6 linked regions of the Homo sapiens genome follow. The protein of the gene in region 4 interacts with the protein of the main gene of each other region in a pairwise test. Each region holds a gene or a part of one and is shown on either strand. Other genes may lie near its edges. The genes, in order: MEOX2, CRX, MEOX1, UBXN2B, UBXN6 and PAX6.

Region 1 (5,072 bases), on a different chromosome or scaffold from region 4:
TAAAGTAAAGTTAAGCCTATTCTTCAGACTATATACTAAAATCAGTACTTCATTGATTAAGTACCTCAGTTTGAAAGGCAAACTTTTTTTTTCTTTTTGAGACAGGATCTTGCTCTGTTGCCCAGGCTGGAGTGCAGTGGTGCAACAACCACTGACTGCAACCTCAACCACTTGGGCTCAAGCAATCCTCCAACCCTAGCCTCCTGAGAAGCTGGGACTACAGGCACTATGCCATCCCACCCACCTAATTTTATTTTATTTTATTTTATTTTATTTTATTTTATTTTATTTTATTTTATTTTATTTTATCTATTTATTTGTAGAGACAGGGTCCCACTGTGTTGGAAAAGGCAACCTTTAAAACTCTTAGAAGAAGACACAATAGAATATCTTACTGGCTTCAGAAAATAGATTTTTTTAGAAAAAGAAAACACAAAACACTAGTCATAAAAGAAACAATAGATAAATTTAAACATATTAATTAATATTAAGAGTTTCTAATCATCAAAAGACACTCTAAGAAAAGGAAAAAGAAACAGCATACATTGAGAGAAGATAGATAGCAGCAGCCATATAACTGCAGTCTCCAGGGAAGTTCCCATGATATGCTTATCAGGACACAAATGCAAGAATGTCTATAGCAGCATTACATATAGAAAAAAAAGAATTCAAATATCCATGGATGGTAGAACAGAAAAATGGTGCTATATTGACAGAATTTGGAATATTATACAATGATAAAAAATAAATAAATAGAGTCTTTTGAATCAACAAAGATGTGGCAAAAAGCCTACACTTAGGAACATTCCATTGATAAACCTAACAAACAAATAAAATTAAAGAGTATAGTTTTAATATTACTTGTTATGAAAAAAATTTGTTTTCTTTTTTAAGAAAGACTTGGAGGTGACACACAAAATTCAGGCTTGTGGTACTTTTAGGTGGGGTAGACAGAGAAATACAATGTAAAAAGAACACTTTGCTTGCTAGAAGCTATAATTATGAGAAATGCAATGTGAAAGAAACAGATTTCCTCCTAAACAAGATGCAATAATGCCAATTATATTCTAGTTCTGATAATGTATAGACCTTTAATGTCTGTTTGCTGTTTTTTTTGTTTTTAATACATATATGTTATTTAAATATATATATTTATTTAAATGTATTAGGCAAATTCAATGAAGCTTTTAAAAAGAAAATACCTGTACAAAGCTGATGTGAATGATGTAGTATATAATCTTGGTGTTAGCATTTAACAAATGTTGAGAATTTTTTATTGTGACCATATTTTAAAGAAATCACTAGATCAAATATTTGCAAAGTAAAATAAATGAATTAAGGTAGAAAATAAAAAGAAGAGTTCAAAAGAAGATAGGCTCAGTGTGAGGTGGAATGGTCAAATAAAGATTTGTGAAAGCAGCAGTAGTTTCTGATGGCAGAGTATGGCCTTTCAGATGCCGCTTAATCAGTAGCTGCAGGAGCATGTTTTAAATTGGTTCAGGAAATGACAGCTGGATGTCAAATCAAAGAAGAACTTAGGAGTGGGGGGCTTTGACCAACACAAATATTATGTTAGCTCCAATTCACAGAAGCTCTTTATAGACGCAAGTGCTTTGAGTGCCTTAAATGACAAAGTTTTTGTTTAGTTCCATATTTTACATTGTATGCTGTAAAATACAAATATAGTACTTTGTATGCACCTTTTGAAACTTTAAAAATTATTATCATGAACATGTAACCTGATTAAATTCAACGTGGATTTATTTTTCTATTCACTCCTTCATGGTGTCTTTGTATAAGCCTTTGAGGAACTTCTTTTCATTGATGACACTAAGGAGAAAAAAATGTCACTTTAATTATCTCTTTTTTTCTGTTTGTTTGTTCCCTTTCTTGGTTGAAGGTGAAAGTCTGGTTCCAAAACAGGCGGATGAAGTGGAAGAGGGTAAAGGGTGGACAGCAAGGAGCTGCGGCTCGGGAAAAGGAACTGGTGAATGTGAAAAAGGGAACACTTCTCCCATCAGAGCTGTCGGGAATTGGTGCAGCCACCCTCCAGCAAACAGGGGACTCTATAGCAAATGAAGACAGTCACGACAGTGACCACAGCTCAGAGCATGCGCACTTATGATATAAACAGAGGACCAGCTCCATTCTCAGGAAAGAAATGTTGTGATGGCAAGCCTTACCCAAATATCGTTTACACAGAGAGATGACTATGGCAGTGATGTTTAATATTATTAAATCCAGGCATTTCGAATCTGTTTTTCATGATTTATAGAGGGTTTACACAAAGTGCCACTTATTAAAGAGCTTCCACAGTGAAGATGGAGAAGGTGAACTTGCTTTGAATATTCCAGATGTGTTTGGTCGTGCGTATGGCAGTGAGCAGGTATGTGTTTGCTTTTGCTTGCACTGAAAATTAAATTGCTATCAAGAGCAAACTATGAACGGTTTTTTATTCAAGATGTCTCCAGAGTGAAGATGCCGAGGATGAACTTGCATTGAACATTCCAGATGTGTGAGATCATGTGTATTACAGTGGGCAGGTATTTGCTTTTGCTTGCACTGAAAATTAAATTGCTATCAAGAATAAACCATGAAACATTTTATCCTGAACAGCCACAGTGCCTGAATTCACTCAAGTGGATAAAAAGTGTATTTTAACTCTGTATATATTACCCTTAAGTCATTTTCCTGTCTTCACTAATTTAGCAATGCATTCATATTAGCTGATGAAAATAGGCACTCACAATGACAACCAGAGCCAGTTTCTTGTCTTTTTTATACATTTTGTCATCCCAGAGACAATCAGTATGTGCTTACCTGTGTTCAAGTAGAGAAAAATACAGTAGAGTCTGATAGGACATATTCTTGTACCACAGACAAAACAAATCTTATGTTGCATTTACTATCAACTGCTGCTAATACGTTATTATAAAACTTACCTAGCTCCTGAATTCTTCCTATCTTATAGCTTAAAACAATTAGGATCATAGGCAAATCAGTTACCTTGCAGAAAGAGCTTTGTATGACAGACATTGTCTTATTTTATTTCTGTAAAATATTAGCTGTATGAATATGATTTAATTAACAAGAAAACATTTCTTCCTGATTGACAACAGTGTTAGACAAGGTGCAAAGCGAAACTGGTTGCTCAAGTTGATAGAAAACAAAATTCTGAATATCTTCAAATTAAATTCGGTAAAAACACATTATTTTTTCATATGTGATGTATTCATGCAGAACAACTATCTTTGTATTTTGTTTTTAAAATGTGTTTAATAAATGATCCTTTGTAAATAACTTTGGTCTCCCTACATTAATTTTCTTAATTTTTATAGATTTCAATATCAATGATTAACAAAGTCTCAAATCTATCTGCACTTGTGCAAATCCAGATGATTATAATTAGTGGATTATTTACATTTTTTCATTTCTGAATTTTTTTATTATGGCAGGAAAAAAATAAATCCTTGTGTAATCAAAGGGCGCCTAAGAATGGGCATATATTAAGCTATTTCTCTAATTTGAAGAATACAGTGAATGGATTTTTTTGTGTGTTTTATGAAGCCACAGATAAAAGTAGGAAAAAAGTATTAAATAATAGTATTCACCACAGTGAGGAAAATAAAATAGTCATACATTTTTAAAGTTATGTCTGATATATGTAAGTTAATCCAACAGTGGTTTTATAGTCTGAATATGCAGAGTCTCTGATGTGAAATATAAGCTAAAGAAGCTAATCAGAGTCCTCAGTTCTAATGGGACTAATGCAAGAAGTAAAGGATGCTATTAACATAATGTATTTTGCATCATGCATGATTGCACACGCATGGGGTGCCTTAGTCCTACTTATAGCTTTATCACATTGTTTTTCATTTGTTTCATATTCTAAGCAGAAATGCTTGGAAACATTGCCAGCCTTCCTCCCCTGCCTCAATCCGAAACAAATACAGAAAAACAATCAGTAAAAATTTCCAAAAACCCATCAGTTAATTGATTACACTTGCTTTAGAATGATCAGACTGACAAAAATTAATTTGATATATTTTAACTTAATCTAGCGTGATATATAGAGAGTATCCCAGAAATAAATAATTTTTTTGTATCACATTTTCCTTTCATGTAATACATTTTACCTCAGTAGTTGTCAGTATTTTAAAATTAACTGAGAATAGACCATTCGAATTGAGGTCTCCCAGGCATGAAACAGACACTTTTCCATTAATCACCTGAATTAATACAAAGTCTGCTTGTGCTGATGACATCTACTTGGGTGGACTGACTTTCTTACTGTAGAAGAGGATTTAAATTCAAAACATCTTGACAAATTAGTGAAGTGGGAAGATATGAATCAAATTGAGTTCAATAGGGACAAAGTGGAGGATAATTCATTTGGGCAGGAAAATAATTTCCAGAAATAAGAGAAAAGGACCCCTTAGAAGTAGCTAAAAGGAGAGCTAATGGTTGTAGCCAAATAGACGTAAGAATTCCAATGTAGTAAGAAAATGAAATAGGAAAAAGGGATTCCGAATAGATATAACATTCGGGAAATGGGAGGTTTTTGTATCATGGCCATATCTTTATTAGAGAATTGTAAGCAATCCTGAAATGAAATTTGATCCAGAGAACACAAAGTGGTAGGAAAGGCCACATGGCTGACTGAAAAGAGACATCACTTTCTTTATGATGAATTAAAATGATCTGCCTGCCGCATAAGACACCTGACACATTATCACATTGTCAACACACTGACAAACAGGGAAGCCAGAGTAATTTTTATTAGTGGAACTTGCCATCTTTTTAAAGTATTTCAGTATCCTCCTGTCTTCAAACTGATGCATAGGTTAGCTACATTATACCCCAATATCCTTTTGGAATTAAAATTCTTTGAGGAAAATTAAGATATTCTCATGAACTATCTGGGTTTAATTCACTCCAAAGGTGCCAAAAATCTGAAAGAACTCTACTTGTTTTTAATCTACACTGGGTTCCTGGCATGCCATGGTATCTTATTGCATAATGCCCTTTTCGTGTAATTCTATCTCAGACCCTGTGGCTCTGTGGAAATTCAT
Region 2 (5,600 bases), on a different chromosome or scaffold from region 4:
AAAAATAAAAATACAATAAAATAAAAATACAAAAATTAGCCAGGCATGGTGGTGCATGCCTGTAATCCCAGCTACTTGGGAAGCGGAGGCAGGAGACCCTCTGGAACCTGGGAGGTGGAGGTTGCAGTGAGCCGAGATTATGCCAGTGCACTCCAGCCTGGGAGGCAGAGTGAGACTCCATCTCAAAAATAATAAGTATTATAATTATGAATTAATAAACAAAATGAGGCATTGATTTTACTCATGTGTAGAATATACACTTGTATATGCGTAGAAAATTCCCAGGAAGGAAGCAAGCTACTGGCACCAGTGACTGCCTCTGGGAAGGAATGCTAAAGCCATATCTTGTCTCTATAGTTTGGATTACTTTTTAATTGTGTGTGTGTGTGTGTGTGTGTGTGTGTGTGTGTGTGTGTGTGTGTGTTCTTGTCAAAAGCAAAAACAACAATAAAATCTTCAAAAAAGCAAACAGAACATGAAAACCCTCTGAGGGTTCCTCATTGCCCTCATTAGGATGGACTCAGAAAACCTCTCACCCTCCACAGCTATTTGCATAAGCCGTTTCCTGGGCTAGGAACGCCTCTCCCCCACCCCAAAGCCCCTCTCACCAGCTAACCCCTTCTCCTCCACGTCTCAGCTCAGCTACTTTCCCCAGAGAAAGCAACCTACGCCCCTAAACTGGATTTTACACACACACACACACGCTCCCTACCTCCTTTTCTTCAAGACACAGCTTGTATTAAACGACATATTTATATGTTTGTTTATCTATCTCTCTCCCTCAAATTCTATCAGTTACCTGAGTTCAGGGACTGGTAATATCTCGGTTCCTGCCATGTCCCCAGCACCCCCAATAAATATTTGAAACATAAGAAAAAGAATTAAAAATGGATGGTGTTTATTGTGAGCTCCCACTCTTCCGTTCCTCTCACTGTCCTTTCCTTCTCATCCCTCACATGAGGAGGGGGACAGATTCTGTTTATTTTAAGTTGAGATTCTACTGTTCATTCAGTAAATATTTTTTGAATGCCTTCCCTGCTCTAGGAACTAGGAATATAGGAAGAAATAAGACCGCAGCTTCTCTGTTCTCATAGAATTGAACTTCTTGGTTCCGTTCCTAGAGAAACCAATAACAAACAAGGAAAAAAAAATTTTTTTTTTTTGAGATGAAGTCTCACTCTTGTCCCCCAGGCTGGAGTGCAATGGCTTGATCTCGGCTCACTGCAGCCTCTGCCTCCCAGGGTCAAGTGATTCTCCTGCCTCAGCCTCCCAAGTAGCTGAGACTACAGGGGCCTGCCACCATACCTGGCTAATTTTTGTATTTTTAGTAGAGATGGGGTTTCACCATGTTGGCCAGGCTGGTCTCGAACTCCTGACCTCATGTGATCCACCCGCCTCGGCCTCCCAAAGTGCTGGGATTACAGGCGTGAGCCACCACGCCCTGCCTTTTTTTTTTTTTTTTTTTTTTTTTTTTTTTTTTTAATAAAGATGCCATGGCCAGGAGCAGGGGCTCTTGCCTGTAATCCCAACACTTTGGGAGGCTGAGTTATGAGGATCACTTGAGGTCAGGAGTTTGAGATCAGCCTGGCCAACATGGTGAAACCCCATCTCTACTAAAATACAAAAATTAGCCAGACATGATGATGGGTGCCTGTAATCCCAACTACTTGAGAATCGCTTGAACCCGGGAGGCGGAGGTTGCAGTGAGCTGAGATGGCACTACTGCACTCCAGCCTGGGCAACAGAGCAAGACTCTGTCAAAAAAAAAAAAAAAAAAAAAGCCTTCAGAAAGTTTCAAGAACTCCCAGGAAAATAAAACAGGTTGTTATGAGAGTGAAGGCATTTGGGGTGGGTGAGGCATCTAGGAATTTGTGTGGATCTGGAATAGAGATTTCCAGGCAAAAAAAAAAAATTAAAAAAACAGCAGGTGCAAAGGCTTGGAGGCTGGAATCTCACACCGTCACCCTGAGCAAGACAGGGTCTCCAACTTGGTCTTGTTGGAGAAGAAACAAGGCACCCTGTGTGACCATAGCAGATTGATCATGGAGAAAAGCAGAAAGAACAAGTAAAACCTGGTAGGAATGTCACGAGAAGGCTCAGTGCTGACAATAAAATCAAAAGCAGCTACATTAAATCCCCAAAATCAAACTGCCTCCAAGGTAACTCCCAATAATCCTTACCCCCTGATATTCATGCCCTGTGTAGTCCCTACTAACAAGCTGGCTGACGTGTGTAACCAACAGGATATTGCAGAAATGACAGAGCGTGGCTTCCAAGGCTAGCTCTAAGGAAAGCCAGCCGCCATGTTGTGAGGATGCTCAAGCCATCCCACGGAGAGGTCTATGTGGCAAAGAAATGAGGCCTCCTGCCAACAGCTATGAGAGTAAGCTACCATGGAGGTTAGTTCCCCAGCCTCAGCCAAGCCATTAAGTGACTTCAGTCCTGGCCGACATCTGACCACAACCACATGGAACACCCTGAGCCGGAATAATCCAGTTAAGCCACTCTTGGATTCCTGTCCCTTGGAAACTATAAGAGATCAGAAATGTTTATTGTTTGAAGCTGCTCAATTTTAGGATAAGTGTTACCCAGCAATAGTTAACTAATACACAAGCCTTCTCTATACAGGTAGTCATTAAATCCCCAGCACAACCTTGGGAGGTAGAGACTGTATTACTATGATGCTTACATTTTGGTTTTGGTTTTGGTCTTAGGGACAGCATGTCACTCTGTCACCCAGGCTGGAGTGCAGTGGCACAATCATAGCTCACTGCAGCCTCGACCTCCTGAGCTCAAGCCATCCTCCCACCTCAGCCTCCCAAGTAGCTGGGACTACAGGTGTGCCACAACGCCTAGCTAATTTTTTAAATTTTTGTGTAGAGAGAGGTGTCTTGCCATGTTGCCCAGGCTGGTCTTGAACTCCTGGCCTGAGCAGATCCTCCTGCCTCAGCCTCCCAAATTGCTGAGATTACAGGCATGAGACACTGCTTTTGCCTGATGCTTACAGTTTAGAGAACATCTTCAGGCTCGAAAGTGTGACTTACCCGGGATCACACACAGGCTGGCAGTGGAGAATCCAGGATTTCAAGGCTAGAGTAATTCCTGAAGGTCCTATTCCCCCAGCCCCCTAACCTGGGTTCCCTCTGTCCTCTCCCACTTCTCCAAAAACCAATAATGTTAAATATGAACCTCCAGAGAGTGGAGACAAGGAAACTGGTGAACCTGCCCCACTGGGGACCATTTGCAGGGCCTGGAACAAAAGCACACACTTTCATTGTCTTCGCCGTCAAATCTGAGTCAGATTGCCTGGCTAAGCAGTTAACCTTCCAGGAAAGCCAAGAAAGCTCACATTTACGATCACCACTTTCTGGGTTTTTGTTTTTGTTGTTGTTGTTATTTTGAGACGGAGTCTCTGTCACCCATGCTGGAGTGCAGTGGCGCAATCTTGGCTCACTGCAACCTCCACCTCCCGGATTCAAGCGATTCTTCTGCCTCAGCCTCCCAACCTGGGACAACAGGCATGTGCCATCATGCCTGGCTAATTTTTTTTTTGTATTTTTAGTAGAGATTGGGTTTCTCCATGTTGGCCAGGCTGGTCTCAAACTTCTGACCTCAGGTGATCCGCCCACCTCGGCCTCCCTAAGTGCTGGAATCACAGGCGTGGGCCACAGTGCCTGGCCAGGATCATCCCTTTTAACGGATAGGGGAGAGGAGGCTCAGCAGGAGGAAAGTGTGGGCCCCAGATCAAACAGCTGATAATAATGATAAAGTGCTGCCTAGACAAGATGTCAGCAGAGAATAATAACAATAATAATATTGAACATCCACTGAAATCTTTCCCTGGGTTTGGCAGCAACCTGAGGCAGCTGATGACAGAAGGGCCTCCAGTGAGGGCTGGGCGTGGTGGCACGTACCTGTAATCCCAGCACTCTGGGAGGCTGAGGTGGGAAGATCGCTTGAGCCCAGGAGTTGGAGGCTGCAGTGAGCTATGATCCAGCCACTGCACTCCAGCCTGGGCAACAGAGCAAGATCCTCTCTCAAAACAAAACAAAACAGGCCAGGCCAGTGGCTCAGCACTTTGGGAGGCTGAAGCAGGCGGATCACTTGAGGTCAGGAGTTCAAGGCCAGCCTGGCCAACGTGGTGAAACCCCGTCTACTAAAAATACAAAAATTAGCCGGGCATGGTGTTGTCCCAGCTTCTGGGGAGGCTGAGGTACAAAAATCTCTTGAACTCGGGAGGCGGAGGCTGCAGTGAGCTGAGATTGCACCACTGCATTCCAACCTGGGCGACAGAGCACGACTCCATCCCAAAAAAAAAAAAAAAAAATCAATCAATCGAAAGAGGACCTGTCTCCTGGGGAGGAAAAAAAAAAAAGAATGTCCAGGAATTCATCACTCGGCAGACACTTGGCCCAGGCTTTATATACAAGATCTCACAATGACAACAATTTCCAGACACTGATGTTTTATGATTTCAAGGGGTGGAACAAAGAATATCAGTGTCTCTGCCCTGGGGATCAACCTGGGAGGCCCCAGGCTGATTCTCAGAGCTGTGGGGTTCGGCACTCACTGGGTCCCAGGTTCCCAGCTGAGCAGTTGTTCCCACAGGTGAGGTCTGAATGCTCACAGCCACCTGGTGGGGCAGACATGCAGATAACTCCATTCTACAGCGGGGGAGACTGAGCCTGGGAGGGAGGGAGGTGCCCACAGTTCAGGTGGCTGATGACCTTAAGGACCTCCAGGGGGCCCCAGCTTCTCACACACTGCATGCACCATGGACCTTGGGAACAAGATCTCAGGCAACAGTAACTCCATGGAAACTTCCTCCCAGGCGGCTTCTGGTATCATCCCCACTTTACAGAGAAGGAAACTGAGGCTGAGAGAAGTGTAGTCTCCAGTTCTGTCTCGCACGTCAGCGGCAGAGCCAGAGCTGGGCCAGCACCTGCCCCGGAGCCGGTGCCCTCCTGATCACCCGGCGATATGGCCTCTTAGGATGCTCCCCACAGCCCCACGGAGCTCAGAGGTCCCTTTCTCAGAGGAGGAAACTGAGGCTGAAAGAGGTTTCGTCAATTCCCGAGGTCACACAGGTGATGAGTGGAAGAACCAGGGGTAAAATTTAAATCTCTTTGGCCCCCGAGCCCCGCTCTTCACCCCCAAGTCTACCTAGGGACCCTAGAAACAGAATGAGGCTGGTCTCCTGCCCTGCTCCCACTGCAGGCCAGGCCTGCAATATGGCTCATCTGGCTGGATCATGGTGACAGCTTATCATTGTCCCCACTTTGCAGAGGAGGCAACCAAGGCCCAGAGAGCCCACATGAGGGGTCCAAGGCCACACAGTGAGAAAAGAACAAGATTTAAACGCAGACTCGGCCGGGTGTGGTGGCTCACGCCTGTAATCCCAGCACTTTGGGAGGCCGAGGCAGGTGGATCACCTGAGGTCAGGAGTTTGAGACCAGCCTGGCTAACAAGGTGAAACCCCATCTCTACTAAAAATACAAAAATAAGCCAGGCATGGTGGTGCACGCCTGTAATCCCAGATACTTGAGAGGCTGAGGCAGGAGAATCGCTTGAACCTGGGAGGTGGAGGTTGCACTGAGCTG
Region 3 (4,617 bases), on a different chromosome or scaffold from region 4:
CAGCCTACAGAGGAAGGTGGGCAAGGGCGTGTGTCTCTGTCATTTCCTTCCTTTTGAAGCATTTACTTTCCGAGTCGCCAGCTGGTTCCAAAGCTCCTCTCCCACCAGGCCAGGTGGTGTCCAGACCAGGAGGAGGCCTGGCTGACCTAGGAGAACAGCGGTAGGAGGAGGCATGGGTGGCAGCCAAGAGACGCTGAGAAGCAGTATCTCTGAAGCTGTTTCCAGATTCATCCGGCCCGGTAGGATCTCTGTCTGATTCCATGAGAGTGTGGGAGCAAAGGCCCTAGGGAAGAGGCTGCTAAGAGGCTGGACAGAACTTCCTAGAAAATCCTAAGACTCCCAGGAATGCTGGGCAGTTTCATATCCAAGAGTCAGGGAAAGATGTGGAGAGGCTGCCCTGGCTGGGGAAGGAAGAGGGTGAAGGTGGGATTGGGGTGGGGGTAGTTGGGTAGGGGGCTCAGTCCTTAGTCATTTTTCCTCCATGCAGAATCTCACTCTGAACTTGGAGAGGCTGTGGAGTCCCCATCCTCAGGGTCCTGCCCATTGGGGGAGATGGGCTGACCTCCCTTCACACGCTTCCACTTCATCCTTCGGTTCTGGAACCACACTTTGACCTGGGGGAGGAAGCAAAGGAGCCTGGTCACTCCAGGGCCGGTGTGACCTCCTCCCCATGTCAATGCTTAGGCTAGCCAGGGTGTAACTCCAGGGACCCCAGCTTGAAACCATCACTTACCACTCCCTACTCCCTCAAAGGCCCCAGGAACTAGGACCGAAGAGAGGACATACCAATCTGCCCAGAGGTCTGTCTTGTGGCTTCGGATAAAGCCCCAGACGGGGGAACATGTTCTAAAAGCACTCTGCATTGGCCCCACCCCCTTCACATGCCCTGCCCTGCCTGTGCCAGGTCCCCCTGCCCCCTACCTCCATTCCCCAAGGGTCTGGGAGCAGAGGTCATCAGCCTTATCCTTAGGCACATTTATAGAGCACTTTTTGGTTTAGATAGCTCTGGTAAGCACATTTTCTCATCTGAGCTTGAGTATTACCTGCAGGATTATGATCCCATTTTACAGATGGAGACCCAGAGGTCCCAGGGCTAGGAAAAGTGATAGAGGCAGGATTTGAATCTAAGTCTTCTGATTCAATATCCAGCCCTCTGGCAGAGTGCTCTGTCAACTGAAATCTGCTATCAAATATTACGGTTATTATTACTATTATTCCGTATCAGAGCATGGGTGTGGGGGTGTGGGGTGGCTGAAGGGAAAGTCCAAAACAAAGGGCCAGGGAAGTTTTTCTCAAAGTGTGCCCAGGAACCAGCTGCATATCCAGATCACCTGGAGAATGTACTAGAAATACAGATTCTCAGGCCCACTCATTATGGTAAAATCTCTCTCCGGACCTCCAGAATCCACATTTTGAACAAGTGCCTTGGGGGATTCCAACATATACTCAAATTTGGGAATAGCCAGACCGTAGGTCCCAACCTAGCTGCATGTGAGAATCACCTAGGGGGCCTTTGAAAAATTCTGAGGCCTGTATCCCATCCTAGGCCAATTAAAATCATCCCTAGGGGTGGAGCCCAGACATCAGCACTATTAAAATCTCCCCAGGGGCCGGGCGCAGTGGCTCACGCCTGTAATCCCAGCACTTTGGGAGGCCGAGGCGGGCGGATCACCTGAGGTCAGGAGTTTGAGACCATCCTGGCCAACATGGTGAAACCCCGCCTCTACTAAAAAAAAAAACAAAAATTAGCCGGGCGTGGTGGCGCACGCCAGTAGCCCAGCTACTTGGGAGGCTAAGGCAGGAGAATTGCTTGAACCCAGGAGGTGGAGGTTACAGTAAGATCGCGCCACTGCACTCCAGCCTGGGCGACAGAACGAGACTCCGTCTCAAAAAACAAAAAACAAAAAAACCCAAAACTCCCCAGGCTATTCTCAGGTGTGGCCACAGTTGAAAACCGCTGGACTGGCTGGAGGAAGAAAAAGGAGAAGGTCCAGGGAGGGGTGGTGGGAAAGGAGGGAAGGGAGGGAGATGAGAGAGCAAAGAAGAGGAGGGGCCCACCGGGGGCGCACCTGGCGCTCAGAGAGGTCCAGGTTTACCGCAATCTCATATCTGCGGAGCCGAGTCAGGTAGTTATGATGGGCAAACTCTGCCTCCAGCTCTCGCAGCTGCTCCTTGGTGAAGGCCGTCCTCTCCTTGCGGGCTTTGCTGCTGCCCTCCGGCTTCCCTCTGTTCTCCTGGTTGTCTGGGGAGAGAGGACCCCAAACAGGAAGACATGGGCTGAGGGAGACTCCATTCCCTTTCTTTTGCCCTTGAGCAACTAGGCAGTCTTTACCAGTCTCCCTTATTTTTACAGGATGCTGAGAAAAAAGCTACACTGTCCTTTTTATTCCTTCTGGTGTCTTACCCATATTAGAATTGGGAAGATTTTTTATTTTTGGTTTCCAATCTCAGGTACCTGCCTCCCACCCTCCCCCCACCCCAAACTTTCTTTTATTCCCAAAGCATAAGAAGCTACTCTTGGCTGTTTAATGACCTCTACTCCCCAGCCCACCCCCCAGCATGACATTACTGGTGGCCATAAGCTTGAGGGGTGAGATGCTCTAAAACAAAGCCTCAAACTATGGTCCCCAGATCAGCAGCATCAGCATTACCTGAGAGCTTGTTACAAATGCAAATCCTAGCCTCATTCCAGACCTACTAAGTCAGAAACTCTGGGGATGGCACTCAGCAATCTATTTTTACAAACCCTCCAGATGCGTCTGGTGCACAGTCAAGTCCGCTGCTCTAAGACCTCACCACTCAAAGGAGTGCCTGGGTGCCAGCAGCATCAGTAGCACCAGGGAGCTGTTCAGACCTGAAGGATCTCAGGCCTGCCCCAGACCTACCTACGGAATCAGAATCTGCCCCAGAGGGCCAAGTCTGGAAAGCCATCTGGAGCCCTCTGAAGCAGGCTGCATGTTAGATTCAGCGGGGCTCAGTCATAACTGCCAACAGGGTCAGGGGACACACTCTGTGCCAGGTGCTGTACCTGACATATATTAGCCTCTTATTCCTCAATAGCCCAACCAAGTGGTTCTAGTATTAGTATCACTTTATGGACCAGAAAACGAACACAGAGAAGTTAAGCAAATTGCCCAAGTTTATTCAGCCAGGGGGTGTGGGAGACAAGAATTAAATTCAGGCGATTTGACACACACATACTGTTCAAATGAAAAGTATGTAGGGGCCAGGCGCGGTGGCTCATCCCAGCACTTTGGGAGGCCAAGGCGGGCGGATCACGAGGTCAGGAGCTCGAGACCAGCCTGGCCAACATGGCGAAACCCCCGTCTCTACTAAAAATACAAAAAATTAGCTGGGCGCGGTGGCACGCCCCTGTAATCCCAACTACTTGGGAGGCTGAGGCAGGAGAATCGCTTGAACCCAGGAGGCGGAGGCTACAGTGAGCGGAGATCACGCCATTGCACTCCAGCCTGGGCGACAGAGCAAGACTACGTCTTGAAAAAAAAATTTAGGAAGGGCTTACAAACGGTAAAGTCCTGAACAAATAAAAGGGGCTGAATGGTTATCTCTTGAGCAGACGGGTGGGAGGCAGCTCTACCTTCACTTTAATGAATGGAGGTGGTGGGTGGAGAGGAGGTGGGAAGAAGACCACACACTTACACAATTAACTCGCAATGCATGCCACGTGGCCAGGGAATGGCTGCAGGAGCCCGGGGCTCTAACATTTAAAAGACGTTTGCTTCATTAATTATCTTTTTTTTTTTTTTTTTTTTTTTGAGATGGAGTCTCGCTCTGTCGCCAAGGCTAGAGTGCAGTGGTGCGATCTCGGCTCACTGCAAGCTCCGCCTCCCGGGTTCACACCATTCTCCTGCCTCCGCCTCCCGAGTAGCTGGGACTACAGGCGCCCGCCACCACGCCCGGCAAATTTTTTTGTATTTTTAGTAGAGACGACGTTTCACTGTGATAGCCAGGATGATCTCGATCTCCTGACCTCGTGATCTGCCCGCCTTGGCCTCCCAAAGTGCTGGGATTACAGGCGTGAGCCACTGCGCCCGGTCCATTTTCCTCATTTTATAGACATGGAGGCTGTGGCTCCGAGTGAGGTGCTTTACCGAAACCTGCGGCCCAACGTCCTGCTCCCTGAAAGACCCATCTCTGCCTTGCCGGCGAGGAGTGTTGGAAGGAGGGATCTTCTGTTTTCAGAGGCCGGGTCTAAGCTACCTGGGGGACTGGGCTGGGGAATTCAGACCCCCTAGTGTAAAGCAGAGAAGCCGCCTATGCAGTCGGCTAAGCAGCCGCATTGGGAGTGGGTGGCGAGGCAGGAACCCCACATTAACCCGGCGATCCACTTTGGAGCTTTGAGCCTAGCTGGTTCCCCTCCCAGCACCCCCCTCTATTGCTTTCCACTCAATCCCTTTGTATTTCAGTTTCCCCGTCCTCCGCCTCCGCGCCCCACTGCCTTGGGCTGGGCGACTCTCTAGCAGGAGGCGCACGGTAAAGTGATTTGGGCGCCTGGCCCACCTCGCGCTGCGCGTCCGTGGCCTCCGCCGGGGGATGGAAGGGGAGTGGGTGCCACCGTTCCGGGAACTCGAGAAGGCGGGGGAGGGGCCCGATAGT
Region 4 (5,600 bases):
GCTGTGGAAGGTACAGCCTGCTGTCTTCTTGCTGATTATAGTAAAATGTGGAAAGAGGTAGATTGAGGGAAGACCTGTTAAATATAAAGAAACCAGGACTTGATGATTTGGGAAATTCGCGGCCTATTCAAATGGCAAAAGCCACTAAAACTAAGATTCACCGTCAGGACAGCCTTTACTCTAGAGAAAGTGATGAAGATATGGCTGTATAACCTTTTGCTAATACTTCAGAAACATCAAAAGGTCTGAATATCAGGTCACACACAAGACTCTTTGAAGATATTAAGGGTGTGAATCATAGATCCTCTCAGCTATTTCAGAAAAAGCCAAAAACAGAGACAGGATTTTCCAGGAAAGATACGTGAGGAGCCTCCTATCTAAATGAGTGCATCCCTGTGACATATGTAAAAGACCCACAAGTTTCTTGACAACGTTATAGCAGCAGAAGCACCACCATTTTTAACAGAAAGCTTTAGAGAATATAAAAGAAGAACAAACTGATAAGTTGATACTCAGCTGCAAACGTGTGCTACCTTTTGTGAAAAAGTAAAGATGACTCTGAGACAGTCAACAAGCCCAGAGAACAGCAGTGAGCTGAAGATTACTCCCAGGCCTTGAAACTTAAAGAAGGGTGCCTCGCTGGTTTTGTAAATTGATTGGTGCTGATGGCTCCTTTTTCCATCTGTTTCTGCTTTTTGAACAGGAACGTGTGTAACTATTATTGTCTGCCTGTCATGCCATCATACTTGGGAACAGATAACTTGTTTTCTAGGTTCACAAGTGCACAGTTGGAATTATGTCCCAGAAATCACACACAGATCCTCTCCCAAACTTAATTTAGATGGCTTCAATGTGAGATTTGAGACTTTTGAGTTGGTGAGACTCAGATAAGATTTTGGATTTAGAGTTGATGCTGTAATAATGGATTGTGACTTTTGAGCACCTATGAGTGATGTAAATTTATTTGTGATGAATCTGAATCTTTAACACAGGAGTGGAGCGGGGGGTGGGTGGGAACTGTAGTAGGCAAGAATAATGTTCCATGTAAAATGTTAATGTCCTAATCTCCAAACCTGTATGTAACCTTAGATGGTAAAAGAGATTTTGCAGATGTAATTAAGGTTACTATGGATTTCAAGACAAGGAGATAAGCCTAGATTGGATATCCGGTGGGCCTCATTTAATCATGAGTCCTGCAGAGAACCTCTCCACACTGGTGTCAGAGAGATGTGGTAACAGAAGGGTCATAGAGATGAAACAGCACTGGTTTTTAAGATGGAAGAAGGAGGTCACAAGCCAAGGAATGAGGATGTCCTGTAGAAGGTGGAATGACAAGGAAATGATTCTCCTGTAGAGCCTCCTAACAGAATGCAACCCTGCCAACAAATTGATCTTGGCACCGCGAAACTCTTAACCTGGACTCCTAACCTACAGAATTGTGAAGATAATAAATTTGTGCTATTTTAAGCCACATTTTGTAACTTGTTATGGTGGCAATGGAAAACTAACCAGAAGTAATAATTAAGGATGAAATGGTGTCTAGGAAGAAGGAAAAGCTTCTGGCTTCAGCAGAAATGCAAACATTTATGCTGGTAATTCTTTAGATCTAGTCCGTCTGACAGAATTTACATTCCTGTATTTCTACACTAGTCTTGTTCTGGAGAAGACATTCTAGGTTGAGCACACAGAATAGTGTTTAGTGTATACAGTGAGTTTCCTAGAAAAATGTGTTGAATGAATAAATGAATGTGATCAACGCAAGCTCTGGGAGGAACTGTAATTACTTGATTTTAAAATATTGTTGCTGTTTACCATATCTTCTTAAGAACTGCTGACCTTTAGGCTGGGCGTGGTGGCTCATGCCTGTAATCCCAGCACTTTGGGAGGCTGAGGTGGGTGGATCACCTGAGGTTCGGAGTTCGAGACCAGCCTGATCAACACAGAGAAACGCTGTCTCTAGCAAAAGTACAAAAATTAGCCAGGCATGGTGGCGCATGCCTGTAATCCCAGCTACTTGGGAGGCTAAGGCAGGAGAATCTTTTGAACCTGGGAGGCGGAGGTTGCGGTGAGCAGAAATTATGCCATTGCACTCCAGCCTGGGCAACAAGAGCAAAACTCCATATCAAAAAAAAAAAAAAAAAGAATTGCTGACCTTTATGTGTTTCTGTTTAAGTTCACAACAGTCATAATTCTGTAAAATACAAGGCAAAACTGTAGTTTCTGATACTAGTAATATATCTAAATCAGTAAGTAAAAAGGATGTGTAAAATCTTAATAGGAGAAATAATTATTGTATGATCAAACAATTTCAAAATCAAAAGACACGTTTCAGTATATATTATAGACAAATTTTCAACTTATTTGATCAAAAGATTTCTTAATGGCTGTTGGTCAATGCTGCATCAAGAAACTTTAGTGCAAATTTTACCAAATGCATTTATCAAAAAGGGGTTTTGTTCATTTTTCTCTGCAAACAAATGTTGTTACATTAACACTAAGCATGTAACAACTCATTTGCCTAGAAATCCAAAAACTATCAACATAAGCCAGTCCTTCAACTAAAAACTCAAACATACTTATCTCAAGGTCTATTCCTAATCCAAATTTGTCTATATTCAGATTGGAAGACAGAATAACAATAAAACCAAAATTTATCTGTAAAAATAATAAAAATAATTTGGCTGTTTTTAATGCTGAAGTATTGTCCTTATTAATACGGCACATCATCTATTCCCACATGCTACTGCATGGACAGGAACAATATTATTTTAGTTGCTGGAGTAACACAGTGTTAAGAATATCTGCTTCTAGCAGTGTCAGGCTTTCATCTGTTAGCTCTTTATTCGGAAATGAAGTCACAAGAATAAAGTCAAGAGCCGCAAATTCAGGACGAGACTGTACAATAAAGTTCCGGACATCCAGGATCCTGAAGAAATAAGACAAAAATAATTTGTAATATAAAAAATCATATTTTCATGTAAACTTAAAACTGAATCATAATAAAAATCACAAAATTTTAATCTTTATATAAAGGTGTTGTAACTTTCTTTAATATATAGTATTTCAATTGAAGGATTTATCTTAGGCTTCAGTTAAAATGTAAAGTAACTTTAGTGTGTACTTAACATTTACTTTTCCTGTAAAATGGAAACAATCTTCAGGTAAGTTATGAATAAAGTAAGTGTACTAATGTTGTTATTTTAAAAGTGCAGGTCCAGCTGGGCACGGTGGCTTACGCCTGTAATTCCAGCACTTTGGGAGGCAGAGGTGGGCAGATCACTTGAGGCCAGGAGTTCAAGATTAGCCTGGCTAACACGGTGAAAACCCCGTCTCTACTAAAACCAGAAAAAATTAGCTGGGCATGGTGGTGGCTGTCTGTAATCCCAGCTACTCAAGAGGCTGAGCATGAGAATTGCTTGAATCTGGAAGGCGGAGTTTGTAGTGGGCTGAGATTCCGCCACTGCACTCCAGCCTGGGAGACAGAGTAAGACTCTGTCTCAAAAAAAAAAAAAAAAAAAAAAAAAAAAAAAAAAAATGCAGGTTGTACTTTTTTCGGAGTATAAAATGTGTTAGCAGCATATGACCCAGAAAAAGGTAACTATGATTGGCCTGTGGCAAGGTGAGTCTAAAACTATGAAATGTGCTATCATAGGAATAATTTTAAAAAATTACTCTCACATAAACATAGTAATTCAACCAAAATCATAAATATATCTATTAGGGTCTTACTTCAATGGACAAATCAAATGTTGATGTACAAGTCAATATTAAAGAAACATTTAAAACTATCTGAAGTTCTTGACAAAAGTACAATTAAACTTGATTTACAATACACATTTATATTATGAAGTATTTGCTATACAGAAAATTAATCCCAATCAAAATTATCACAAATTTTTAAATGAATAAAGTCCCCAAAAGGTTTTACTATGTTAAATTAAATCTGATTCGACTTCATATAGTTTTAGTAACAACGTAAAACTATAGTTCTTAATTTATTTTTGTGTGATATCTGAGATCACATTAGTATTTGGATAGTTTATAGAGACTGTTTAAATACCACATATTTCATTTCTTAAACACAGCTATTGTCCTTTTAAAAATGTTTCTTCTGTCAAAAACTTACTTCAAAAGTAAACCTAAAGAATATCATATTCTTCATTACTCAAGTCACATACAGTTCTACTTAGATAAGCAATCCAGTGTATATAACAGCAAACAGGACACTGTTGGTAAAGAAGCTTACCTGTGTGTACTATTGAATCTTTGTATCAAACGACTCCCATCTGCTAACCTGATTTGAATTTTTGTTGTTGGCACTGAATCATCAATAAGAACAACTGCATTAAGTATTGATTTATCCTCCTCTTCTGGAGAGGAAGGTGTACTGACTATTTCAGGTGTAAGGCTAAAAAAGAGGAATTAAACACAAATCTGAATGTGTAAAATATATGACAAACTGAAGACAGCGATAAACACTTAGAACATGGCTTCATTTGAGTCTCCTATACTTCTTTCAACCTCTTTCATTATATTAAAGTTATTTTGGATCCTACGATTCTTATTTGGTTTATCTAATCTCTCATAAAAGCCTAACTTTGCATCCTTTCCTCATTTAACTGTTTGCAACTTCATCACTGTTTAGCAAACCAGTTTTATTTAGAAATACGAGCAACTCTGAGTTAGGGTCAAAGAATCATTAAGAGCACAGACAGACATGGTTTCACATCCCAGCCATGTCAACTGTGTAAAGTTGAGTAAGTACATCAATCATTTTGAATCCCAGTTCTATCATTTATAAAGTGAGGGAATAATACTATGTTATGAAGGTATATTATACCAGTAAGTCCTTAATATTGTGCCTAGAACACAGTGTTTCAACGGGTGCCAGCTATTGTGAACATATTATCAGCACTAAATTCATTTAATTTGGACTTGGTTAATATCATTTAAACACATCTGATTCAAGCACTGCTTTGCAAAAGAGAAATAACTTCTAAGTACCATTGAGGAATAAAATGTTATTACATGACAATAAATTCATAATGAAGCTTGATAGAATATCTTACCATTAGAACTTGGTTACTAGTGACCCTGGCATTGCTGTCTTAGCCCCTTCTAACACTAGCAGGATGATCAGCCAGTATATGCCAAAAGTGAATGTCAAAAATAGAGGAGTGCTCTTTTGGTTAAATAATTCAAATAAATTTAGCTCAATTTTCTCAGTCATCTTAAGGAATTTTTGATAGTCTTGAAGTTTTTTCTCTTGAACTCTGAGATTTAGATGGTTTCCTATAGATTATTTTCTTCTGGAAGAAAGACACGCATGTATCTACATATTACTAGTATAAAAGTTCTATGAGCATTTGGGCTTTAGTCCAATCTAAATCATCATGACTCTTACTTCCATTCAAAAAGCTTCTCTCTCAGAGTACACAGTAAAGTGATAAAATTACCTGGTACTAACTGCTGACACTTTCTCTTTCTTTAGCTATTTCCTGATGCTAATTTTAGAACTGATTTGAGGATACATAAAAATATACATAAGGTTAAAATTATGACTTACAATAAATGATCAGATATTAAGGAATTTCTTTTTA
Region 5 (5,600 bases), on a different chromosome or scaffold from region 4:
CTCTGCCCACCTGGCTGTGCCTGGCGTGTACTTCACCTGTCCGCTCACTGGGGCCACCCTGAGGAAGGACCAGCGGGACGCCTGCATCAAGGAGGCCATTCTCTTGGTGAGTGGCACCCTGTGTGCTCCTGCCCCAACCTGTAGCTTCCTGTGCCTGAGCCACCCTCCATCGGAAGCCCAGGTGGTACAGATCCCTCCCAGAGTCCCCAGAGGCCACTGCTAGTAGTGAAGCCCCTCCTCTGATACCCCAAATCCAGGCACACCATTGTGTATGCATCTGTATCTCCTCTCTCCCAACTAGGTGTCTTTTTTTTTTTTTTTGAGATGGAGTCTCACTCTGACACCCAGGCTGGAGTGCAGTGGCGCATTCTCGGCTCACTACAACCTCCGCCTCCTGGATTCAAACGATTCTCGTGCCTCAGCCTCTCAAGTAGCTGGGATTACAGGCACCTGCCACCATGCCTGGCTAATTTTTGTATTTTTAGTAGAGATGGGGTTTCACCATGTTGGCCAGGCTGGTCTCGAACTTTTGCCTCAAGTGATCAACCCGCCTCAGCCTCCCAAAGTGCTAGGATTACAGACGTGAGCCACCACGCGTGGCCTGGTTGTTTTTCATAAAAGGTTAAGTATTATTTGCTTCAATACAGAAAGAACTTCCTACAAAATTAGCCAGGCATGGTGGCACATGCCTGTAATCCCAGCTACTCGGGAGGCTGAGGCAAGAGAATTGCTTGAATCCAGGAGGCAGAGGTTGTGGTGAGCCGAGATAGCGCCATTGCACTCCAACCTGGGCAACAAGAGCAAAACTCCATCTCAAAAAATAAAAACGTCCACAGCATTTTTTTCCAATACAGCAAGTCCTCACTTAACACCATCAATAGGTTCTCAGAAACTTCGGCTTTAGCCTGGGCAACATGGCAAAACCCTGTCTCTGCCAAAAACAAAAAAAAATAGCTGGGCATGGTGGCGTGCACCTGCAGTCCCTGCTACTCAGAAGGCTGAGGTGGGAGGATTGCTTCAGCCTGGGAGGTAGAGGCTGCAGTGAGCTGTAATCATGCCACTGCACACCAGCCTGGGTGACAAGTGAGACCCTTTCTCAGAAAATAGTAAGTGGCTGGGCGCGGTGGCTCTTGCCTGTAATTCCAGTGCTTTGGGAGGCTGAGGCAGGTGGATCACCTGAGGTCAGAAGTTCCAAGACCAGCCTGGTCAACATAGTGAAACCCCCTATCTACTAAATATACAAAAATTAGCCAGGCGTGGTGACAGGCGCCTGTAATCCCAGCTACTCAGGAGACTGAGGCAGGAGAATCGCTTGAACCTGGGAGGTGGAGGTTGCAGTGAGCCCAGATCACGCCATTGAGCTCCAGCGTGGACACTGGGTGACAAGAGCGAAACTTCATCTTAAAAACAAAACAAAACAAAATAGTAATAGTTCCATAGACTCTCCAGACTCACACCCACTCCAGCAGTGTGTGCAAAAGCACCCGTGTCCCCATCCTCTCACCATACTGTAAATCACCAAACTTTGATCTTTACGCCTGTTGGTAGGTGAAAATAACATCTCAGGATAGAGTTAATTTGCACTTTCCTTATTTTGGATTGGCCATGTTTCATATGAGAATGCGTCCTTTCTACATTATTTAGTAGATAGTTTGTCTTTTTATTAGTGATTTGTAGGCACTCTTTTTTTTTTTTTTTTTTTTTTTTTTTTGAGACAGAGTCTCGCTCTGTCGCCCAGGCTGGAGTGCAGTGGCGCCATCTCTGCTCACTGCAAGCTCCGCCTACGAGGTTCACACCATTCTCCTGCCTCAGCCTCCCGAGTAGCTGGGACCACAGGCGAACCGCCACCACGCCCAGCTGATTCTTTGTATTTTTAGTAGAGACGGGGTTTCACCATGTTAGCCAGGATGGTCTCGATCTCCTGACCTCGTGATCCGCCCGCCTCGGCCTCCCAAAGTGCTGGGATTACAGGCGGGAGCCACCGTGCCCGGCAGCACTCTTTACATATTAGGCAATTTAGGCTTTTGCCTATGATATGAGTTGCACATGTTTCCCTCTAGTTGCTTCTATGTTGGCTCTGCTTATGGTCACTTTGCTGTGTAGGATTTTTTGATCTCTGTATAATTAAATGTGTCAGTTTTAGTTCATGGCTTTTGGGTTTGGGGTCATTCTTAGAAATGCCTTCCCCATTTCCATGCTGAGAGAATTCTTTTGTGGCCTCTCCAGTGCTTTTTTTTTTTTTTTTTTTGAGACAGAGTCTTGCTGTCACCAGGCTGGAGTGCAGTGGTGCAATCTCAGCTCACTGCAACCTCTGCTTCCCGGGTTCAAGCAATTCACCTGCCTCAGCCTCCCAAGTAGCTGGGACTACAGGTGCACGCCACCACACCCGGGCTAACTTTTGTATTTTAGAGATGAGGTTTCACCATGTTGGCCGGGATGGTCTCGCTCTCCTAATCTCGTGATCCGACCGCCTCGGCCTCCCAAAGTGCTGGGATTCCAGGCATGAGCCACCGTGCCCGGCCTCCAGAGCTTTTCTTCTGGCTTCTCCTTGACTGCTTGCTTGTTTCCATGGTTGAAGCTTTGATCCAGCTGGAGCATGTTATTATGTAACATGGTGGGATGGAGCTGATGTAATTTTTTTTTTAGATCTTGGCTCAGCTTTCTTCTCAGCCCCACCTGTCGAGAGCACCTGTCTTTTGCTTACAGCTGTGAAATCCCACCTTTCTCACAAAGTACATTCCTGTATGGATTTGGACCCCTTCCTGGCTGCTGTTCCTTCGTCCCTTGTCTGTGCATGTACCCAGCTCCTGACCTAAGCCTGGCAGCCAGTCGCCCAAAACGCCCGAGGCCCGCTTTTGGAGCTGACACGCTTCCCTTGGCTGGTGTGCTGTCCCGGGCGCTCTGATCCCAAGGAAGCTGTTGTCTTGGGGACATGCCCATCTGGCAGCTCTGCCTCTCTGCATCCACGTGCTCTGTCCCGCTCCCCACATCATCTCAGCAACTAAACCGGCAGACTGGGCCGGGTCCCAATTTTCAGTTGGCATGAGCCCCGGCTCAGTGTGTAGGTCATTGGTCCGTGTGACGCAGGGGGCTGCTGAGGGACCCTGCTGTGCAGTTGAGGGTGGGGGGTGGTGGGTGGAGCTCTGGGCTGCCTGGGCAGGTGGCCCGAATCCTGACACATGGCCCTGGGCTGCCCTTCTGTTCACCCGCCCTCGTCTGGGCAGCCCAGGGAGGTGCGGGTGGCAGCCCTGCTTCCCAGGCCATGGGTGGCTCTCTGGGTGTGGCCGTGTGTGATGGCTGTGCCGAGCGTGGATTTGTGCCCCAATCTTTTCCAGGTCTTAGGGTACGTACTGTTCTCAGCCTCTCCATGCTGGGACGCTGTTCGCAGTCAGCAGGGCTGGTTCTGGGAAACCCCCAGAGTTCCAGCTATGACTTCTCCCCTCCCCCGGTAACATAGGTGGATAGGTGGGACCTCGGGGAGGGGCAGGGGCTGGGGGTATCCGTCTTCCAGCTATTGAGTTTCAGACATTGAGGGTTGCAGACTCATTTGTGTCCTCTCTGCCACCTGCCATCCCTGTGACCCTGGACGATGGGCCTCTCGGTCTCTTTGTAAACATGAGGCCCGGGAGTGGTTCCAGAACGTCCATCATGGGGCTGCGAGAGCAGGAGGGATGGGGCGTCCATGGTGGCGGGAGGTTCTGTAAGTGGCGGTGGCCTTGATGGATCTCAGCACTGAGGTCGAGTTCTAAAGCCAGAGTGTGAGGCACAGTTCTGTCGCGTCACACTGGCTTCCAAGTCCCATGGATCTAGCCTTGAGAAGGCGGAAGGGGAGACTTGAGTTCTGCTGGGTCTTGGCTGCGTCGCCTCTGCCCTGGGGCGTGGGCAGGGCTGCGGTCTTGGAGGGTCTCTCTTTTCCTTTCTGTGATGAGCGCACAGCTGGGGCCGCTCCAAGCCGCTGTTCTGCCTTCCTTTTCCTGCCCCTGTTACCTGGGCAGCGGAGGGCCGTGCGGCCCGGGCTCTCAGTGAGTGGCTTTCCCTGCTTCCCTCCTCCCAGCACTTCTCCACCGACCCAGTGGCCGCCTCCATCATGAAGATCTACACGTTCAACAAAGACCAGGACCGGGTGAAGCTGGGTGTGGACACCATTGCCAAGTGAGCGTGTGGCCCCTTTGCCCTGCCTGGCCCCTCCAGCTCATCCCAGCACCCCTCCCACTGGGGCTGTCACCCCCTCTGGCCCCCTCATTACCTGCTGAGGTGGGTTGGGAAGGAGCATAGGCCGAGAGTGAGGCAGCTCCACCCAGAGGCCTCAGGCAAAGGGCTGGGCCTCCTTGGGCCTCAGTTTACCCGTGTGCAAAATGAAGGTGTTGAAGGAATCAGGGGTTTCCCACCCTGGCTTCCTTGGGGAACATGTGGAGGAGGCAGGGTCCCACCCCACTCCCCGGGTCTCAGGATCGGGGGCAGGCCTGGAGGTCCACGCTGCCCGCCAACGCCGAGGGAGCACCCCGCAGGAGCCCCCTGCTGGCACTGCGGCCCTTCAGCTCTGGCTCTCCACTCTTCCGGCACTGTGGCTTCCCCACCGCTGTGGTTAATTGTGCCCTTCCAGGGCTGGTGGGACGGTGAGGGGTTCCGTGGGGCTCCTGCTGGCACCAGGGGTGGGCTCCATGGGGTGTCCGAGGTGTGCCTTCCACCCGGAGATGGTCTGCTGCCCTCGCGTCACTGGGCCGCTTCTTCCCTCTGACTAGAGGCCAAGTGTGGCTGAGCTGCTGTTACCTGGAGCAGGAGGCACAGAGGGGCCGGGTGGGCAGCCTGGGCTGTGCCCCACTCACCTTCTCCACCTACCCCAGGTACCTGGACAACATCCACCTGCACCCCGAGGAGGAGAAGTACCGGAAGATCAAGCTGCAGAACAAGGTGTTTCAGGTGGGCGTGCCTTCTGGCCCCCGGGGCCCAGGCTGGGGGTGGGGGCAGCTGGCCTGCAGGAGCCGGTGGTGGCCCACACCAGGCGGTGGGCTCCCTGGAGGAGCTAGCGAGAGTTGAGCCACAAGCAGTGAAGGGTTCGGCCAGTAGAAGGTAGCAGGACAAGATGGAGAGCAAGACTTTTATGCACCGGTCACCCCAAATCAACAAATTCTGCCTCTCCTCACCTGCATCCTTTTCCTCCTCTTCAGCTGGGCTTGTTTGGGAACATGTCGACTCTGGGGAGGTTTCTCATGCAAACCAGATGTCTGGTTCTTCTGGGGGAAAGGGCAGGGACTGGGGTCCTGGGCGGTGTTAGCCTCGCATCAGGCCCCAGCAGTGTCTGGCTCCTCAGCCTCACTCTTCGTGCCTGGTTGTGACTCTTTCCTCTGTGCAGAGCTGTTGGAGACTCCACAGCCCCCACCGTAGAAAAGCAGGTTTGCATCCAGCACTGAGGCACCCCCAGGGCTGGGCCCCATCCAGGGGTCGACAGCTGCTCCCAATAGCGAGAGCCGGGCCCCTGGACTGGGTGGGGTGTGGCCAGGCCATGGAGGAAGCCAGGGGCCCCCAGTGACGCCCATCTCCACCCCCAGGAGCGCATTAACTGCCTGGAAGGGACCCACGAGTTTTTTGAGGCCATTGGG
Region 6 (3,185 bases), on a different chromosome or scaffold from region 4:
AGAAAGGTCACTGAATGCCATTCCAAAGAAAATTTAACTTGGTTCTGGTGGGAAAGTTCTTCCAAGTACAGTCAACACTAGAAGCATTTTAAAGGGAATTGGTTGGAGGTAATGGGAGTGGGGAGGTGGGAACCAGTTTGATGCACAGTTTGGTCAACATATTTTGTGTAGTTCTGGCACAATATGGAAAATCAACTTACTCTTTCAGAGTTTGAGAGAACCCATTATCCAGATGTGTTTGCCCGAGAAAGACTAGCAGCCAAAATAGATCTACCTGAAGCAAGAATACAGGTACCGAGAGACTGTGCAGTTTCACACTTTGTGATTCATACCATTTGTCTTTCCTAGAGACAGAGGTGCTTGTACAGAGTACTATTTATTTATAGGACTAATATAATAAAAAGGTTCAGTCTGCTAAATGCTCTGCTGCCATGGGCGTGGGGAGGGCAGCAGTGGAGGTGCCAAGGTGGGGCTGGGCTCGACGTAGACACAGTGCTAACCTGTCCCACCTGATTTCCAGGTATGGTTTTCTAATCGAAGGGCCAAATGGAGAAGAGAAGAAAAACTGAGGAATCAGAGAAGACAGGCCAGCAACACACCTAGTCATATTCCTATCAGCAGTAGTTTCAGCACCAGTGTCTACCAACCAATTCCACAACCCACCACACCGGGTAATTTGAAATACTAATACTACGAATCAATGTCTTTAAACCTGTTTGCTCCGGGCTCTGACTCTCACTCTGACTACTGTCATTTCTCTTGCCCTCAGTTTCCTCCTTCACATCTGGCTCCATGTTGGGCCGAACAGACACAGCCCTCACAAACACCTACAGCGCTCTGCCGCCTATGCCCAGCTTCACCATGGCAAATAACCTGCCTATGCAAGTAAGTGCGGCTGGTGGTGGCCTGCATAACCCAGGCCCCAGAGAAGTGAGGAGTGGCTCAGGGCCTGCGGACCTCATTGGCTGTGTCTGCACCCTTGAGAGCTTTTCGCACTACAGTGATTGGCTTGACCAGTCAAGTCGGAGACAGTCAATCCCATCACTTTTAAGTGATTGACTCATTAATTCATGCCCTAAAAAAATGAGTAATAAAAATCTGTCCAGTTTTGTCAGGTTGATCTGCCTTTTATTATACTGTTACCTTGATAATGTTGGGTGGTGGTGGGGCATGTTTTGGGTACCAGGGAGCCTTGCACCAGAAAGTGGAAATAATGCTGGCACATTATCAGATAGCAGATTAGTAGTTTAAAATTTGGGTTTATATTAATGTGTTTGTATGCTAAATATAGAATCTGTGCACGCATTTGGGGCATTACTTTGGGTATATGTGATAAACTAGTGAGAAAGAAAAAAGGATCAGAAATGGGATTCATATTTACATGGTGAGATATACATAATATAATGAGAATGCTAGTTTTCTGTCTGTATCTACAATAAGAAAAGGCATAGCAGGTATTTGCTGGAAATTTAGTGTGTCTTTGCTGTGAATGGTGTGACGAGTTTGTGGCCCTCCTAGCTGCCTGGGAAGCTTGATGCTATTCACTTGGTATGACAGCCTGCCTCTCCTCTTAGTTCTGTCCCAAATATCTATTAGCCCCTACATTTAGAGGTCCTGCACTAGGTTCACCCTTTATGATGTAAGTTGGATAAGGCAGATGGTTTGTACTAGACCTTTGTTGCTGGATGGATTCTTGATAGGAAAAATGTCTGTCTTCTGGTAGGCCTTTCCCAGTGGTTTTCCTAGAACTCCTGTTTGTGCAACAATTAGAGATATTAGATGGTACGATATTGGCCAGCATGAGCCTCTGCTGGAAACAGTTCTGGGGCTACACTGATTGTTTATTCTCCATTGAACATTTTTTGCTGGATTTCAAATCCAAATAACAGCAAAATAAATGTTTCACAGTCTTCAGACTAATATAGGAGCAGCTAGATAAGCAACTTCAGAGGAATTATTCACATGTTTATTTTTATTGCATCTGGATATTGTTGGCCATAGTGCAATTGATGTAAATTAAGGGATTAACAGCCCATTAGTTGGTGTTGCTATAACTGCGTTGGAATTTTCCAGAAGTCAGGTTGCCTAGAGGAACTCATTGCAGGAATTAGAAACAAATGCAAGCTGAAATTCTGGCAGGCCCTCAAGGCCTGTTTGCCTCTTTGAACTTGATGTTAGCATTCATCATCTGACTTTAATAAGGCCACAGAGTGTCTCGTTCAGTTTCATGTATTATAACAACATCCAGGTTTCTGTGAAGATAGCAAAATGTGTATGTGAGAAAATAATAAGACGAACAAGTAGATGCTGCAATTATATTAGGGCTGTTTCCACATACAGAGCGGTATGGGGAATCAATCTATTTCAAACACTGACTTTTAAAAATTACATAATTTGTATAATTCAAAAAGTACATGCATTCATTAAGCATAAAGAAAATCAAAATGATCAATAACTTTACTCTTCAGAGAAAACTACTCTTTGAATTTTGGAGTGGGTGAGCCCGATTGTCTATCCATTTATTCATTCTCTTGACCAAAATCATCATTTTACAAATGGTGGGTGTCTTCCTCTGGACCTTCTCTGATATGCTTCCCTCTCTGAGCATATGGATTTTGGAAATTAAACATTTCTCCAGTTTGCAGAGAAGAGAAATGATAGTATACTGTACTATCATCTGACCTGCTTGTTCCCGACACACTTCTTTTAATTCATCCCAAGTTTGCTGCCATGGCATAGTACCATGAGAGCTCATGAGGCGTTTTGTTAGGAGAAAGGTTTACCTCCTCAGTGCTGCCATTCCGAACAGTTCGAGGGTAGCAACAGTTTTCTAGTTATAAGTCAGTCTGGGCTTTTGGGTCTGTTAGGAAGTCATGGTTAATTCTCAGGATGGAGGTCGTTATATTTACTAACACTTCTGATCACTTTAACTTGGGGTCATTACAGATCTGCTTCTTCAAAGAATCTTTAATCCCATCAGTGAAAGGTTCCCAAGGTCCCTGAACCATACTTTACTGAGAGCTCCTCCCACTGCTCTCTGTCCCAAAGCTTGAGATATGGGCTCTGGGGGTCATAGGGTTCCCAAATAAATCCAGATTTGCAGGGAGAGGGGATGTGTTTTGATGAAGGTCCTCATGCTATAGGTTCTTCAAAGATGCTAGCAGAGGTTAGAGACAAAAATCCTA

What was found.
Region 1: the proteins of UBXN2B (region 4) and MEOX2 interact in a two-hybrid assay, tested with the Homo sapiens proteins (one large-scale study listed by BioGRID).
Region 2: the proteins of UBXN2B (region 4) and CRX interact in binary tests that used the Homo sapiens proteins (3 or more experiments, as listed by UniProt).
Region 3: the proteins of UBXN2B (region 4) and MEOX1 interact in binary tests that used the Homo sapiens proteins (3 or more experiments, as listed by UniProt).
Region 5: the proteins of UBXN2B (region 4) and UBXN6 interact in binary tests that used the Homo sapiens proteins (3 or more experiments, as listed by UniProt).
Region 6: the proteins of UBXN2B (region 4) and PAX6 interact in binary tests that used the Homo sapiens proteins (3 or more experiments, as listed by UniProt).

The regions. Positions count from the first base shown.
Region 1 is NC_000007.14:15,609,440-15,614,511, reverse strand, and holds the end of MEOX2 (homeobox protein MOX-2), read left to right. Parts: intron 1-1,900; coding exon 1,901-2,125; 3' UTR 2,126-3,300; downstream 3,301-5,072. UniProt on the Homo sapiens protein: Mesodermal transcription factor that plays a key role in somitogenesis and somitogenesis and limb muscle differentiation. Required during limb development for normal appendicular muscle formation and for the normal regulation of myogenic genes.
Region 2 is NC_000019.10:47,823,718-47,829,317, reverse strand, and holds part of CRX (cone-rod homeobox protein), read right to left. Parts: intron 1-5,600. UniProt on the Homo sapiens protein: Transcription factor that binds and transactivates the sequence 5'-TAATC[CA]-3' which is found upstream of several photoreceptor-specific genes, including the opsin genes.
Region 3 is NC_000017.11:43,641,419-43,646,035, forward strand, and holds part of MEOX1 (homeobox protein MOX-1), read right to left. Parts: intron 2,243-4,617; coding exon 2,070-2,242; coding exon of another isoform or gene 2,059-2,069; intron 615-2,058; coding exon 492-614; 3' UTR 1-491. UniProt on the Homo sapiens protein: Mesodermal transcription factor that plays a key role in somitogenesis and is specifically required for sclerotome development. Required for maintenance of the sclerotome polarity and formation of the cranio-cervical joints.
Region 4 is NC_000008.11:58,444,715-58,450,314, reverse strand, and holds part of UBXN2B (UBX domain-containing protein 2B), read right to left. Parts: intron 4,409-5,600; coding exon 4,247-4,408; intron 2,927-4,246; coding exon 2,764-2,926; 3' UTR 1-2,763. UniProt on the Homo sapiens protein: Adapter protein required for Golgi and endoplasmic reticulum biogenesis. Involved in Golgi and endoplasmic reticulum maintenance during interphase and in their reassembly at the end of mitosis.
Region 5 is NC_000019.10:4,446,870-4,452,469, reverse strand, and holds part of UBXN6 (UBX domain-containing protein 6), read left to right. Parts: coding exon 1-106; intron 107-1,639; exon of another isoform or gene 1,640-4,054; coding exon 4,055-4,152; exon of another isoform or gene 4,153-4,844; coding exon 4,845-4,920; exon of another isoform or gene 4,921-5,282; coding exon of another isoform or gene 5,283-5,365; exon of another isoform or gene 5,366-5,549; coding exon 5,550-5,600. UniProt on the Homo sapiens protein: May negatively regulate the ATPase activity of VCP, an ATP-driven segregase that associates with different cofactors to control a wide variety of cellular processes.
Region 6 is NC_000011.10:31,791,138-31,794,322, reverse strand, and holds part of PAX6 (paired box protein Pax-6), read left to right. Parts: intron 1-208; coding exon 209-291; intron 292-520; coding exon 521-671; intron 672-769; coding exon 770-885; coding exon of another isoform or gene 886-1,059; exon of another isoform or gene 1,060-1,118; intron 1,119-3,185. UniProt on the Homo sapiens protein: Transcription factor with important functions in the development of the eye, nose, central nervous system and pancreas. Required for the differentiation of pancreatic islet alpha cells.